Linked DNA regions of Homo sapiens. The protein of the gene in region 1 interacts with the protein of each later gene in a biochemical or structural test. Each region holds a gene or a part of one and is shown in the gene's direction. Other genes may lie near its edges. The genes, in order: TNC and SMOC2.

Region 1 (7,277 bases):
GCCTGGCTGAGAACTTCTGTTTCTTTTGTTGCAGGCCGCTTGGACACCAGGCCCTTCTGTAGCGGTCGGGGCAACTTCAGCACTGAAGGATGTGGCTGTGTCTGCGAACCTGGCTGGAAAGGCCCCAACTGCTCTGAGCCCGAATGTCCAGGCAACTGTCACCTTCGAGGCCGGTGCATTGATGGGCAGTGCATCTGTGACGACGGCTTCACGGGCGAGGACTGCAGCCAGCTGGCTTGCCCCAGCGACTGCAATGACCAGGGCAAGTGCGTAAATGGAGTCTGCATCTGTTTCGAAGGCTACGCCGGGGCTGACTGCAGCCGTGAAATCTGCCCAGTGCCCTGCAGTGAGGAGCACGGCACATGTGTAGATGGCTTGTGTGTGTGCCACGATGGCTTTGCAGGCGATGACTGCAACAAGCCTCTGTGTCTCAACAATTGCTACAACCGTGGACGATGCGTGGAGAATGAGTGCGTGTGTGATGAGGGTTTCACGGGCGAAGACTGCAGTGAGCTCATCTGCCCCAATGACTGCTTCGACCGGGGCCGCTGCATCAATGGCACCTGCTACTGCGAAGAAGGCTTCACAGGTGAAGACTGCGGGAAACCCACCTGCCCACATGCCTGCCACACCCAGGGCCGGTGTGAGGAGGGGCAGTGTGTATGTGATGAGGGCTTTGCCGGTGTGGACTGCAGCGAGAAGAGGTGTCCTGCTGACTGTCACAATCGTGGCCGCTGTGTAGACGGGCGGTGTGAGTGTGATGATGGTTTCACTGGAGCTGACTGTGGGGAGCTCAAGTGTCCCAATGGCTGCAGTGGCCATGGCCGCTGTGTCAATGGGCAGTGTGTGTGTGATGAGGGCTATACTGGGGAGGACTGCAGCCAGCTACGGTGCCCCAATGACTGTCACAGTCGGGGCCGCTGTGTCGAGGGCAAATGTGTATGTGAGCAAGGCTTCAAGGGCTATGACTGCAGTGACATGAGCTGCCCTAATGACTGTCACCAGCACGGCCGCTGTGTGAATGGCATGTGTGTTTGTGATGACGGCTACACAGGGGAAGACTGCCGGGATCGCCAATGCCCCAGGGACTGCAGCAACAGGGGCCTCTGTGTGGACGGACAGTGCGTCTGTGAGGACGGCTTCACCGGCCCTGACTGTGCAGAACTCTCCTGTCCAAATGACTGCCATGGCCAGGGTCGCTGTGTGAATGGGCAGTGCGTGTGCCATGAAGGATTTATGGGCAAAGACTGCAAGGAGCAAAGATGTCCCAGTGACTGTCATGGCCAGGGCCGCTGCGTGGACGGCCAGTGCATCTGCCACGAGGGCTTCACAGGCCTGGACTGTGGCCAGCACTCCTGCCCCAGTGACTGCAACAACTTAGGACAATGCGTCTCGGGCCGCTGCATCTGCAACGAGGGCTACAGCGGAGAAGACTGCTCAGAGGGTGAGTGCCAGGGCGCAGACCAGCATATAATGGCCATGATGGAGTGGACTCCTAGTATGGGTTGGAAAACTACGTTTATATATATAAACATTCATGCACACTGATTCTTTGTACGTATTAATATATCCATTTAAACACACACCCATAATGACTTTTTAAGGGGGCCCTGTCATTCCGTTGTTACAAGGTGACCTATTTAAGGGCTGAAGGGCTCAGAGAGGTTATATAATTGTCCCAGGGACACACAGCTGACACATCACAGAGCTGGTATTCAAGTCTGCCTAACTCATCTACATAGAGTTTAAAATAAAGTTGGAGAGGCCAGAACACATCTAGTGTTCAAGATGAGGTAGATAAAGGGATACTCTCTCTTTTGCTAAATATCAACTTTATTTCCTACTCTCCACTGACATCAAACCAACAGTAAACAAAATCTCTGTATTTGGATGGATGTAAAAATTCAGCTAAATTGAATACGCAGTGAGATTACATAAAAACAACTGTTTCAAATGCATACTTGGCTAAAGACGAAATGCCTATTATCTACAAGATTGACCTGTCTTTTCATTGTCTTTTGTAACTGGTTTTGTTTTTTTGATTGTTTTGTTTTTTTAATCCTAAAGACTGCAAGCTCCTATCCTTAAAAGGGCACTATTTCTAGCAGTTAGTATGGGACCTGGTACATATTAAGTGCTTAGTAAACCCTGGTTAAGTGAAAACACAGGAGAGAAAATTAATGCTCATATTTAATGAGTGTCTTCTTTGTACTCCTCTCATCTACCCATATTATCATTGTCATAATGGAGAATTTTTTCCTTTACTAAAGTTATTGGTATCTAAACATAAATAAATGGCTTTGTGTTCAATGTGGCGCAAGCAGGGAAGCCTGGTTGGAAAGAACACCAGGCTGGCAGGGAGGAGATACAAGTTCTAAACTTGATGAGGTGAGCAAGCTTGGTCAAGGCGTTCTGTCTTACTCACCTCTATAATATAAGAAAGTTGGACCAGATATGCCCAAAATACCCTCCCAGTGCTAGGGACACGTAACTCAAAGTTCAGAGCAGGGAGTGAGGCTCAGACTGCACTTTCCCATGCCAACAGCCTGCATCTGAGCTAAGACCCAGGAAGCACAGAAAGTTGGAGAGGCCAGAAACACCCAAGGGCACACTGCTGACCTGGGACTCCAGCCTGAAGGAAATGGACTAAGGAACAGCCACCACAGGTCTTAAGATGGATCACAGCAGGGGGTCCCTGATGCCATCTGCATTTTAGAGGCAACAGAAGATCTTCAGACCTCTGTGGCTGACAGTGGAAAAGACAGGTCAAACAAACCTAGAGAGATTTTAGAGGACACACTGTTGACACCAGATGTCCTTTCTTATTCCTGCCAGTGTCTCCTCCCAAAGACCTCGTTGTGACAGAAGTGACGGAAGAGACGGTCAACCTGGCCTGGGACAATGAGATGCGGGTCACAGAGTACCTTGTCGTGTACACGCCCACCCACGAGGGTGGTCTGGAAATGCAGTTCCGTGTGCCTGGGGACCAGACGTCCACCATCATCCAGGAGCTGGAGCCTGGTGTGGAGTACTTTATCCGTGTATTTGCCATCCTGGAGAACAAGAAGAGCATTCCTGTCAGCGCCAGGGTGGCCACGTGTGAGTGAGCAGAACTCTTTTGGGCAGCCTCACCTGATGTCAGCCCACCCAGTGTATAACCCTCCCTCGCCACGGCCCCTACAATCCTATAGTTGTTCTTTACAGTTATACCAAATAAGAGCCTAGAATTAAGTCCATAGAATCACTTATTAAAGAAATCCCTCATTTTCCATCAAATCTTTCTCCTTGCTCTCCTATATACTTCCTGCCAGAGAAAATCATTACAAGTAACATTTAGCAAGTGTTTACTGTGTATCAGACTTTGTTGTAAGCAGTCTACATATTAGTATAAGAGTCCTCATTTGGCCGGGCATGGTGGCTCATGCCCGTAATCCTAGCACTTTGGGAGGCCAAAGTAGGTGGATCACCTGGGGTCACGAGTTCAAGACCAGCCTGGCCAGCATGGCGAAACCCTGTCTCTACTAAAAATACAAAAATTAGTCGGGCCTGGTGGTGCATGCCTGTAATCCCGGCTACTCAGGAGGCTGAGGCAGAGAATAGCTTGAAACCAGGAGGCAGAGTTTGTAGTGAGCTGAGATCATGCCACTGTACTCCAGCCTGGGTGACAGATTGAGACTCTGTCTCAAGAAAAAAAAAAAAAAAAAAGAGTCCTCATTATATGAGTTAGTATATGTATGAAATAGGAGCTATTGTTAACCCCATTTTACAGATGAGGAAACTGAGACTGCATGGTTAAGCATCTTATCCCAAGTCATGCAGCTAACAAGGAGTAGAGGCAAAACTTTAACCCTGGCAGTCCTGGCAGGTTTATGTTCTAAACCACTCTATTACTTTTCAGTGGAGATCACTGACTATTTTTCTTTAAGTGGAAACATTCTGGTTTATGAGTTTAGCATCAGTATAATTACCTTCATATCTAAAAAGCAAGCTCTGGCTAGAAATTGACCCTTTTTTCCTTAATAATAACATTGGCTGCCATTTATTCAACTTGTTCTGCATGCCACGAACCAGGCCCAGCAGTCTACACACTGGAGTGGAGTATATCACTCACTCCTCAATGCATTCCCAAGAAGTAGACATATTTACCTTCTTTTTCCAAGTGAAGAAACTCAGGCTTAGAGCACTGTGTGCAATTGCTCAAGTTCACATTGATAGTAGAGCTTAGATTCTAACCCCAAGTCTGTCTGATTCCAAAGCCTGCGTTCATTTTAGATTTAAACATATGAAATTGCCAAAATTAATCATACCATTTTTCCTAATATTAATTTTTATACAGCCTCATAGAGACCTCATCCCAGAAGAAGCTTTAAAAGGACACCTGCTCTGGTTGTCAGCCCCTGACTGTTGCAGACATCCAGTCTGGTTTAGTGGAATCGTGGCCGCGTTGCCCAATCACACACCTGCCCTATCCTTACGTTCTATTTATGTTGTTACTTACAGACTTACCTGCACCTGAAGGCCTGAAATTCAAGTCCATCAAGGAGACATCTGTGGAAGTGGAGTGGGATCCTCTAGACATTGCTTTTGAAACCTGGGAGATCATCTTCCGGAATATGGTAAGGAGTACAAAAGAGCAGATCCATTTGATCTCAAGGATTTGAAAGATGACCAAAGGGTTCTGAAGACTTCTGTATCAACTAATTTTCCTTAGTTTTTGGTGGAGGACAAGGCTCTCATTAGCATCATTTGTGTTTGCATCTATATTTTAAGGGATGTTGGTTTTTCCCTGATTTTAATAAGTAAGTGTAGCACTTACGGCTGACACCCTAGACAAATAGAAGTTGTCACCTCAAGGTTCCAATTGTCCATCATCACCTTAGAAATCTCTACTCAGAGGCAAAGAAGAGAAGAAACAGTCTCTCCCTCAAAATAAAGGTACATCTCAGATTTGAGCAACCCTTCTCTCCAGGCCCAAAAGTACATGTGAAGCAGGGAACTTGTTCTCTGAATTTAAGCCCAGGCTCTGCCACCAACCAGCTGTGTGACTATCCAACAATCACCCTACTCCTCTGATGCTGGCCTCAGTCTACCCAAGGAGGGATTGAGCTTGTGCCTTCAGAATTCCTTTGGCTCTCACATTCTGTCATTTGACTTGCATGACAAAGGGGTAAAAGTTTACGAATGGGAGAAACAAACTAGAGAAATGTCTTTATCATCTCTGTATCCTCAGTAGCTTACATACTGATCTGATGCATAGTAAGTGCCTAATGAATCGATGAAAGAATAACAGAGGAATGAATGAATGCAGAGTGAATGAATCACATAAATTAAGAGACTGGCACCTCCCCTAACTCTTACCAAGCTGCCTCTATCTCTCAGAATAAAGAAGATGAGGGAGAGATCACCAAAAGCCTGAGGAGGCCAGAGACCTCTTACCGGCAAACTGGTCTAGCTCCTGGGCAAGAGTATGAGATATCTCTGCACATAGTGAAAAACAATACCCGGGGCCCTGGCCTGAAGAGGGTGACCACCACACGTGAGTATCACCTTTAATACTTATAGAATGATAAGGCTGATTGTACCTCATAGCACCTCCTGGTTGAGAAAGTGCCTTCTCATATAGCATCTACATCATTTAACTTTTGCTGCATTTTTAAAAATCCAGATACAGTGGTTTAAAATAACAATTCTTTGCATGTTGGTGATTTGGGTTTGGGCTCAGCTGAGCAGCTTATCTGTTCTTGACTGCACTCCTCATGTATCTGTGTGCTTAAGGGGTGGATTGGCCTAGGATGGCCTCAGCCAGGATGGTGTCTTTCTGTTTCGCAGAGCCTCTCATTCTCCAGGATGCTGGTCCTGTTCACACAGCTATTGAACAGGTTCAAAATTGGCATTAGATCACTTCTATCAAAGCACATCCCACGGCCAGTTTATATTTAAGGAATAGAGAAACAGATCCATCTCTTGATGAAAGGAGTTTCAAAATCTCCTTTCAAAGGGGTGTGACTACCTGAAGATAATTAAGCCCATTGCTAACAATCTAATTAGCATCATGTCACTAGTTTAATATTAGCACCCAGTTGTAGGACAGAGGAAGGGAAAATATTAATGTTAAGGCTTAAAGAAGCTAAATCACTTTAACATCCCATAGTTAACACCATCAGGGGCATAACTTTAAGCCAGGGTAAGTTTTATAACTTTAACCCCATTTCCACTAACATTGACTAGGCTCTGGTTTATGTAGAATGTTGATTCCATCTCTTCAATGGGAACCTAAATAAAATTTCATTCAATACTAATGATGTCAGAAGTTCTTGGGAGTAGAATAGGATTTAGCAGTACTAGATCATTTGGTGAGAAAAAGACCTGAATTTGGAGTTGCTCCACCAGGAAACATTTTTTTTTTTTTTTTCTGTCACCCAGGCTGGAGTGCAGTGGAACGATCTCAGTTCACTGCAATCTCTGCCTCCCAGGTTCAAGTGATTCTCCTGCCTTAGTCTCCCAAGTAGCTGGGATTACAGGCTCCCACCACCACATCTGGCTAATTTTTTTGTATTTTAGTAGAGATGGGGTTTCAGCATGTTGGCCAGGCTGGTTTCCAACTCCTGACCTCAAGTGATCCACCCGCCTCGGCCTCCTAAAGTGCTAGGATTACAGGCGTGAGCCACCGTGCACAGCTGCAATTTTTTAAAAAGAAAAAAATGCATAATTTTGCACTTCCATATAGGAAAACCTCTTTATTTTCTTCAAGATAACATATGCGCCAACTCTTTAAGTAATCGACTCTTCTTGGCAGGGGGTTGTTGGAAAAATTAAATCAGTTGCTAATGACAAGAAAGAACATCTTGCATTTAAATATTTGCACATTTTGCCTAGCTCAGAGCCAATTCAAAGGATTTTCTCTTTCATAAGCAAGTGTTTTCCATCATCCTGACACCACCTCTCTGTGGTAGGTAGAAAAGCAGGTACCAACAGGAAAAAAAAATCATTAGATCACCAGAAAGACAAAGAAAAGACAAAGCAAATGCTTAGTTGCTATGGAGGAGGTGCACTGAACTTTTTTTTTCACTGCTCTTTTGTTTATCTAAATTTGGGAATTGTCTGCTTTATTTCTTCTTATTTTAGAACAAACATTCCAACATTTGAAGTTGCATAATCATAAATTTCAACATAGGGGGACAAATATTTACCTGTTCATTTTGTATTTTTAGTAGAGACAGGATTTCACCATGTTGGCCAGGCTGGTTTTGAACTCCTGATCTCAAGTGATCCACCCG
Region 2 (7,277 bases), on another chromosome or scaffold:
GAACTTATTCTGTTTCTAGCTTTGAAAAGAACAGTCTGGTTTTCTTTCTTGAATTGGCTTATTATTCCCCCCAGGAGCCTGGGCATAGGACACTGCCACATGGTGTGGACTTTGAGAGGGCCTGGCACGTCTAACCCAGGTGGGAGTGTGTATGGGGTAGCACCTTCGTGCTATGCCTCTGTTGACCTGAGACTTCTGAACTCAGTTCAATGGGTGGTTGGAGAACTTACTGTGAGTGGAACTGTCCCAAAATAAAGGGTGACTGGGTACATCGCTGAGCCTGCATGCGGCAGTTTTGACGCCAACCCTTCCATGACGCAGTATTTACAGGGGCCGTTAGACCCCACCGTGCAGGCGGCTAAGTGAGAAGAAGGCCGGGGGCGGAGTGTGCTAGAAAGGACCCACCAGAGCACCAGGCTCCTCATACAGGTTCTCAGCGGGCAGCTTCCCCAGCCTGAATCACACACCACAAAATGCCAGAGCAAAGGGTGGCTTTGCTATCAAGATGGGCCAGAGGAGTTACAGCAAGGGTTGGCAGGGGGCCAGCGCCCCTGCGAGGGACGAGGGTCTCTGCAGCCATCACCGTGCCGGACACAGCTGTCATGGGAGAAGCGGAATAGCTCCCTGTGGGCAACAGTGGGGAAATCCCAGCTGTTCTGGGGTCGTTTCTCTTTTACCTCAAGCCTCGTTGCTCCTCTCATGCGTTTGCTAGATCTGGGACATCTCAGGGTGATGAAATTTTCACTTCATGGTACTTCTGTGATTTCTCATGCAGTGAACATTCACTTTAACATAATGAAAGTTAGTTTTTTTCTTCTGATTGCTTGTAATCTTTCATTTTTGTTCGCCTTTTTTCTTCAGAAGTAGTTTTGAAGTACAGTCGTCCGTCATCAGTAACAAGCATTATTCCAGGTCCTGGGGTGACTGTGACATGGGACTGAGCAGGATTGATTTGCTGCTTCTTGTTTTAGAAGTACATAATGCTTTTTATGTTCAGTTTTTCTTTTTGCACTAAAGACTCCTGCAGCTTTTATATTATGTTAGTCATGTTTCGTGATGAACATCTATTATTTTCTCATTTGAAATATTGTGTTGCTTTATCTCATTTGGGGGAATATGATTAAATTAACAGCCAAAAAAAATCCCCCTGGGTGTGTCCCTATTACCACACCAAATATCCACATAATTCTTTCTTAAAGCTGTTCAGTACTGAGGATTATCTAAAACGCCTTTTCTCCCAGATAATAATATTCTTCTCCATCAAATCCATATTCCTCTCAGAATCTCTGGAGGCCAGTGGAGGACTGGAAATTCATAGAGAGCAGCCCTGGCAGGCAGGTGCCCGAGGTCCTGTGGGTCCCAGCCTCACCTGCCCCGGCGCCTGTCTCGTCGCCCTGGACAAGTTCTCCTGGACGGCTGGCCTGGCAGGGCTTCTGCCCACGTGTTCCCGAGCCTGTGCCCTGGAGGCATTTTCAGCCCTCCAAGTTGTTTTTCTCATTTCCCTTCCTGGTTAGTCCTGCAGCTGGGGAGCTCAGCCTTCTGTAGACCGGGAGGCCCCTCCCAGGGAGCCGAGGCCGGGTGGGCTGGGCAGCTTTGGAAGCACCGCGGCCAGCAGCCTCTGCAGCCTCAGGTCCTCTGCCTTTCTGAGGGGATGTTCGATGAGACTGTTACTTCTTTCTTGGAAAGTAGCATTTGCCCCGTGGCCGTGATGCTTTTTGCTATAGATTTTGATCTCCTTTTTCAGTTGTGTGCAAAGAGACTAACACAGACCTTTTTGCACTCTCAGAACCCCCCTGGTGAAGGCTGCACATCTGTTTTCTGACATGTGTGTTTAATGAAGTGGAAGCCAGCATGACTGTGGAGTCTTGCTATCGGCAGCTCACGTGTGCTTCAAGAGCAATCACACAAAACTCCAGTGTCAAAAAGAAACCTAGGAAAACCAGGGCGTCCCTAACTGCATAAACAGGCTGGTCTCCGAACGACTTGGCTGCTGTCCACACCACGGCCACATGGTCCACGCCAACGTGCCCTTGACCCAGGGGTGGTCCACGCCAACGTGCCCTCGACCCAGGGGTCTGAGAATCACGTGTGGCACTGCCTTTCCCCACGGCACCCTCAGCCTGTCCTGTTGCCTGAGGAGTCCAGAGAGAGCCCTCCTCATCTCAGACAATCCTTCCTCTGAGGGCCACGGGGAAGGCGGGGAAGGGGCCGTCCTCAGTCCCACTCGGCTTTCTGCCTGGGCTCTGCAGCTCTCCGCGTCCTCCACTTACTGAGTGGGCTCCTGAGATTCCCTTTGGCGGGGCCGTCTAAAACTTTTCTTAGTAAAAAATGGAATCTAAATTGGGCAGAAGGTGTGTGGTGTAAACTCCCTTCCTGCTGTGGTGAGGACGGTCCGAGCAGATGTTCTAATGCCCGAGGTGCTCTCCAGGCTCAGAAGTCTCCGTGGGTGTCCCTAGCCCCAGCAGAGCCCCAGGGAGAGGCAGCCTCCCCAGCAGGGAGTCTGAGAGTGCAGCGTGGCTCAGTGGGGACGCTGTCCCTCCAGGGCTGGTGCCTGGCTTCTGTCTTCTATTTTCCCCTCGGTATCTTTCTCTTTCTACTGAACTCTGGAAGGGCTTTCTTTATAAAAATTTAACAAAATGTAAATGGTAACAAGCTCCGTTTGTCACCTCTCCCCTGGATATTTACACACAAATAGACCCAGTTGGAATCGGCAAATTTTGCTCCCTGCTTGTGAAGCTCTTAAACCCGCCGATCTCATCGGGGAAACGAGGGTGGGGCTCCTACCTCTTGCATTTGCTTATTGATCCAGCAAGCATGTATTGGGCAGCTGAGCTGCTTCTCTATGCCAAAAGGGCATCCAGAGAGAGGAGACCTATGTTGTCCATTGTCCATGCCACCCTGGGCATAAGGACACGGGATGCTGCCTGTGTCCAGCTACTGGGGCAGTAGCACCGGGAACGGTCTCAGGAGAAAAGACCCCAGAGAAAGTGGATGGCTTCTTTCAAATGTTATCTTGAATTTGGGGTGGGACGAGTGTCTCAGGCATGGTGTCAGGGAATTCCTAACCGGTGGGAGAGGAGAGTGGTGTTGAGGGAAGGATGGAGGGGAAAGTCACGCTGCAGAATGTTGGGTGCCTGAATTATTCCCTGACCCCAGAATCCATACACAGTCCGCGCTGGGCTCCAAAGCTATGAGCACTAAACCCTGCTGTGGACTGTTCGTGCCAATGCCGTGGTGTGGACAAGTCCCCAGGAGACGGGCGTTGGGGAGCTCCTGCTGTTTGCCCTACTGCCTCCTTTTGCTCTGAGAAGCGAGGTGGCTCTGGACAGGGTGGGGGTGGCGGTGAATCACAGGCCCTGGCCTCGATTGCTGGGATGGCCAGCCTCATGTGCTCTCAGCGTGCACTCCGTATGTCCCGTGTCCCTAAGCACCCGGTGCCTCTGCTGCCACACTCGCTGGATGAGTGACACTGCCCACCTCCGATTGCAGTTCTGAAGATCAGTGAGATACTAATGCCTGTGAATTTTAGTCTCACGTAATAATTCAAACAATAGAGGAATTAATAATAGCTATGGCTCAAAATCAATATATATAATGCAATGTGTTTGTGTTTAAACTAGCTCATTAAGATTAAGGTAGGCCAAAATACTCATTTCCAAACAGTAAAACAACATTTCCCTGTATTTTAGAGGAAAATCTGTTAGGCTTTATGAGTTAATTATGAAAACATACACGTGTTTTTCAGGTTGTCCGGGTGCCAAAAAGCATGAGTTTCTGACCAGCGTTCTGGACGCGCTGTCCACGGACATGGTCCACGCCGCCTCCGACCCCTCCTCCTCGTCAGGCAGGTACGCTGTGTTCGCCGTGGGACAACAAGTTGGCAGGGTCCCAGAATTCTGGGGAATCTGGAAAGTCTGAACATTACATATTGGCAACCTTCTCAGCTTATTTGGACACAGTAGGGCCTTAAAAAGGAGCCTTCTGCAAACACAGGAAGTTGCTTAGCAGGTTTTCTTGTAGCAAGACTAAATCACTGAAAACACTCCCATAGGGGTACATGGCCCTGAGCCGTGACTCCTGGGCCTCTGCGGGGTAGTGGGCTCTGACCCTGGCCCTTTTGGTGCGGAGCAGGGCAGGGGGAGCACTTCCTGCAGAGGGCTTTGTGCTTTGAAATTGCACTTTAGAGTCATCGATTGGATTGTAAATACTTTGAATGACAACGTTTAATCTGAAGTTCTCAAAACGTGATTAGGTTTACTGCAGTAAAATGTACAGCACATACATTTGCTGTCCTAACCACTTTCAGGCATGTGATTCAGTTACATCAAAGACATTCACACTGTTCAAAATAGGATTTTTGGAACCCTGGAGATGTTCCTTGAGTACCTGGTAGGCATTCCCGCACTCCTGGACCTGGGGCCTGGAGCTCGGTGGAGTGGCTTTCGGTGAATTCTCCAACACTCCTCTTTTCCACCCTCTGTAGATCAGCCTCAGGAGAGCAGAAGAACCCCAGGGTTTTACTGCGATGGCATCTCAAGCATCAGATATTCCCCCTGATCTAGCCATAGTTTATCTGTTTCTTTCAAATAAAGTTTTGATGGAGATTTCATCTTTTTTCTTTCTTTAGAATGTTGGCCTTTCTCCCCATAGCCCCTGACACCCAAACCCTTGATTATCTCAGCCACTTTAGGTGATTTTTTTGGTCTCCTGAACTAAAAGCCTCTCCTCTCACTGTCTGTCTGCTAAAGAAGACTTAAGGAAATAAAAAGGCAATACTAACAGAAAATGTCATGAATGTGTAGGAAATTAAATTTAATAGAGCAGGCCGGGCGCAGGGGCTCACGCCTGTAATCCCAACACTTTGGCAGGCCAAGGCAGGTGGATCACCTGAGGTCAGGAGTTCGAGACCAGCCTGGCCAACGTGGTGAAAACCCATCCCTACTAAAAATACAAAACTTAATCCAGCATGGTGGCAGGCACCTGTAATCCCAGCTACTCGGGAGGCTAAGGCAGGAGAATCACTTGAACCTGGGAGGCGGAGATTGCAGTGAGCCAAGACCACACCATTGCACTTCAGCCAGGACAACAAGAGCAAAACTCTGTCTCAAAAAAAAAAAAAAAAAATTTTAATAGAGTCAAACTGTATGTAAATTTCAACTTTACATCTTCTATTCTTGGAAAGATTGTTTTCGCAAACTAAGCTAAACTGCAAACTAAAAATGAAGGCAGTAAATGAATTGCTAACTAAACTAAATTGCAAACTAAACTAAATGCAAACTAAAATTGATGGCAGTAAATGGATTGTTATCTGAAAATCCTCCGAAAGGTTGAGAAATTGGCAATGGTGTCGGAGTTCACGGTGTTCTCATACCTGGGAATGTACAGCTCATCCCAACAGGCAGAATCCAGGGGCCAGCACCTCCAGGAGGGCCATCCCATGCGCACACACACACCCTCCATCTCACGGAGAAGGTGCGTGTCTGCCATTTGGTGCACTTTTAAAGATCCGCACCTTCTAGAAGAGTTTATTTATGTATGCCCTAAAATATTGAACCTAACATAATCCAAGGAAAAATATCTAGTCCCAACTTAAAATGTTTTTGATTTGCATCATCTGATATTCCTATGACATGAAGGATGTGTAAAAGAATCACATTTACAGGGCTAGAAAAGCTCAGGGTTCTGGTGTGTCGGGCGGGTATAGCTGCATGTGCTGACCTGCCAGTCCTGTGCACACAGAAGCCAGGATAAGGGGGCTTTTGTCCTTCAAGTGCATCTTTGCTGGGCACAAATTCACTGCATCATTTACAATTTTGAATCCAACCTGAAAAATCTTTGCTAAAAATGTTCTTCTAAATTATTTCTTTAAATTGTTATATCTGATGACCAGTGCTGCAGGCTGAGACACCAGGACCATGAGAACTACAAGCAGGGGTTATGGGTTTGAGGGAAGGACAGTGGCCAGGAAGGAGCAGCCCAGGGGTTTAAGCATCCTGACGGCATCTGTGTTCCTTCCAGGCTCTCAGAACCCGACCCCAGCCATACCCTAGAGGAGCGGGTGGTGCACTGGTACTTCAAACTACTGGATAAAAACTCCAGTGGAGACATCGGCAAAAAGGAAATCAAACCCTTCAAGAGGTTCCTTCGCAAAAAATCAAAGCCCAAAAAATGTGTGAAGAAGTTTGTTGAATACTGTGACGTGAATAATGACAAATCCATCTCCGTACAAGAACTGATGGGCTGCCTGGGCGTGGCGAAAGAGGACGGCAAAGCGGACACCAAGAAACGCCACAGTAAGAGCTTTCCCACCCCCGACCCTGGGCAGTGGTCAGGCCCTGAGGCCTGGGAGGTCTGCTTCTCACAAACACAATTACAGATTGTGTTTATGGCCTGGGAGTGCAAAAAATCAAATATGCTGTTTAATTGTTGGGCGTCTGTTTGCAGAAATAATAATGATAATTGGCGACTCATCACATGCCACTTGCCCAGGAGAGCCCAGGCTCAAAGGGCATGAACTGCGTGTTGGTTTGCAATGAGCCTTTTTACTGTTCAGACCACGGTTGGCTTCCCCCAGAATGGATTGTCTTCTGGTATTTGAGGTGCAAACCTGGGAACCACTGGAATAACCAACCCTGCACCTGAGCTCCAACCAAATGTTAGGAACTCACCAACCCTGCTCCTGAGCTCCAACCAAATGTTAGGAACTCACCAACCCTCTACCTGAGCTCCAACCAAATGTTAGGAACTCACCAACCCTCTACCTGAGCTCCAACCAAATGTTAGGAACTCACCACCCCTGTACCTGAGCTCCAACCAAATGTTAGGAACTCACCAACCCTGTACCTGAGCTCCAACCAGATGTTAGGAACTCACCACCCCTGTACCTGAGCTCCAACCAGATGTTAGGAACTCACCAACCCTGCACCTGAGCTCCAACCAGATGTTAGGAACTCACCAACCCTGCACCTGAGCTCCAACCAGATGTTAGGAACTCACCAACCCTGCACCTGAGCTCCAACCAGATGTTAGGAACTCACCAACCCTGCACCTGAGCTCCAACCAGATGTTAGGAACTCACCAACCCTGCACCTGAGCTCCAACCAGATGTTAGGAACTCACCAACCCTGCTCCTGAGCTCCAACCAAATGTTAGGAACTCACCAACCCTGTACCTGAGCTCCAACCAAATGTTAGGAACTCACCAACCCTGTACCTGAGCTCCAACCAGATGTTAGGAACTCACCAACCCTGCACCTGAGCTCCAACCAGATGTTAGGA

The links.
Region 2: the proteins of TNC (region 1) and SMOC2 form a complex in vitro, tested with the Homo sapiens proteins (one study listed by BioGRID).

The regions. Positions count from the first base shown.
Region 1 is NC_000009.12:115,080,031-115,087,307, reverse strand, and holds part of TNC (tenascin isoform 1 precursor), read left to right. Parts: intron 1-34; coding exon 35-1,444; intron 1,445-2,835; coding exon 2,836-3,099; intron 3,100-4,500; coding exon 4,501-4,616; intron 4,617-5,379; coding exon 5,380-5,536; intron 5,537-7,277. UniProt on the Homo sapiens protein: Extracellular matrix protein implicated in guidance of migrating neurons as well as axons during development, synaptic plasticity as well as neuronal regeneration. Promotes neurite outgrowth from cortical neurons grown on a monolayer of astrocytes.
Region 2 is NC_000006.12:168,646,936-168,654,212, forward strand, and holds part of SMOC2 (SPARC-related modular calcium-binding protein 2 isoform 2 precursor), read left to right. Parts: intron 1-3,745; coding exon 3,746-3,848; intron 3,849-6,018; coding exon 6,019-6,293; intron 6,294-7,277. UniProt on the Homo sapiens protein: Promotes matrix assembly and cell adhesiveness. Can stimulate endothelial cell proliferation, migration, as well as angiogenesis.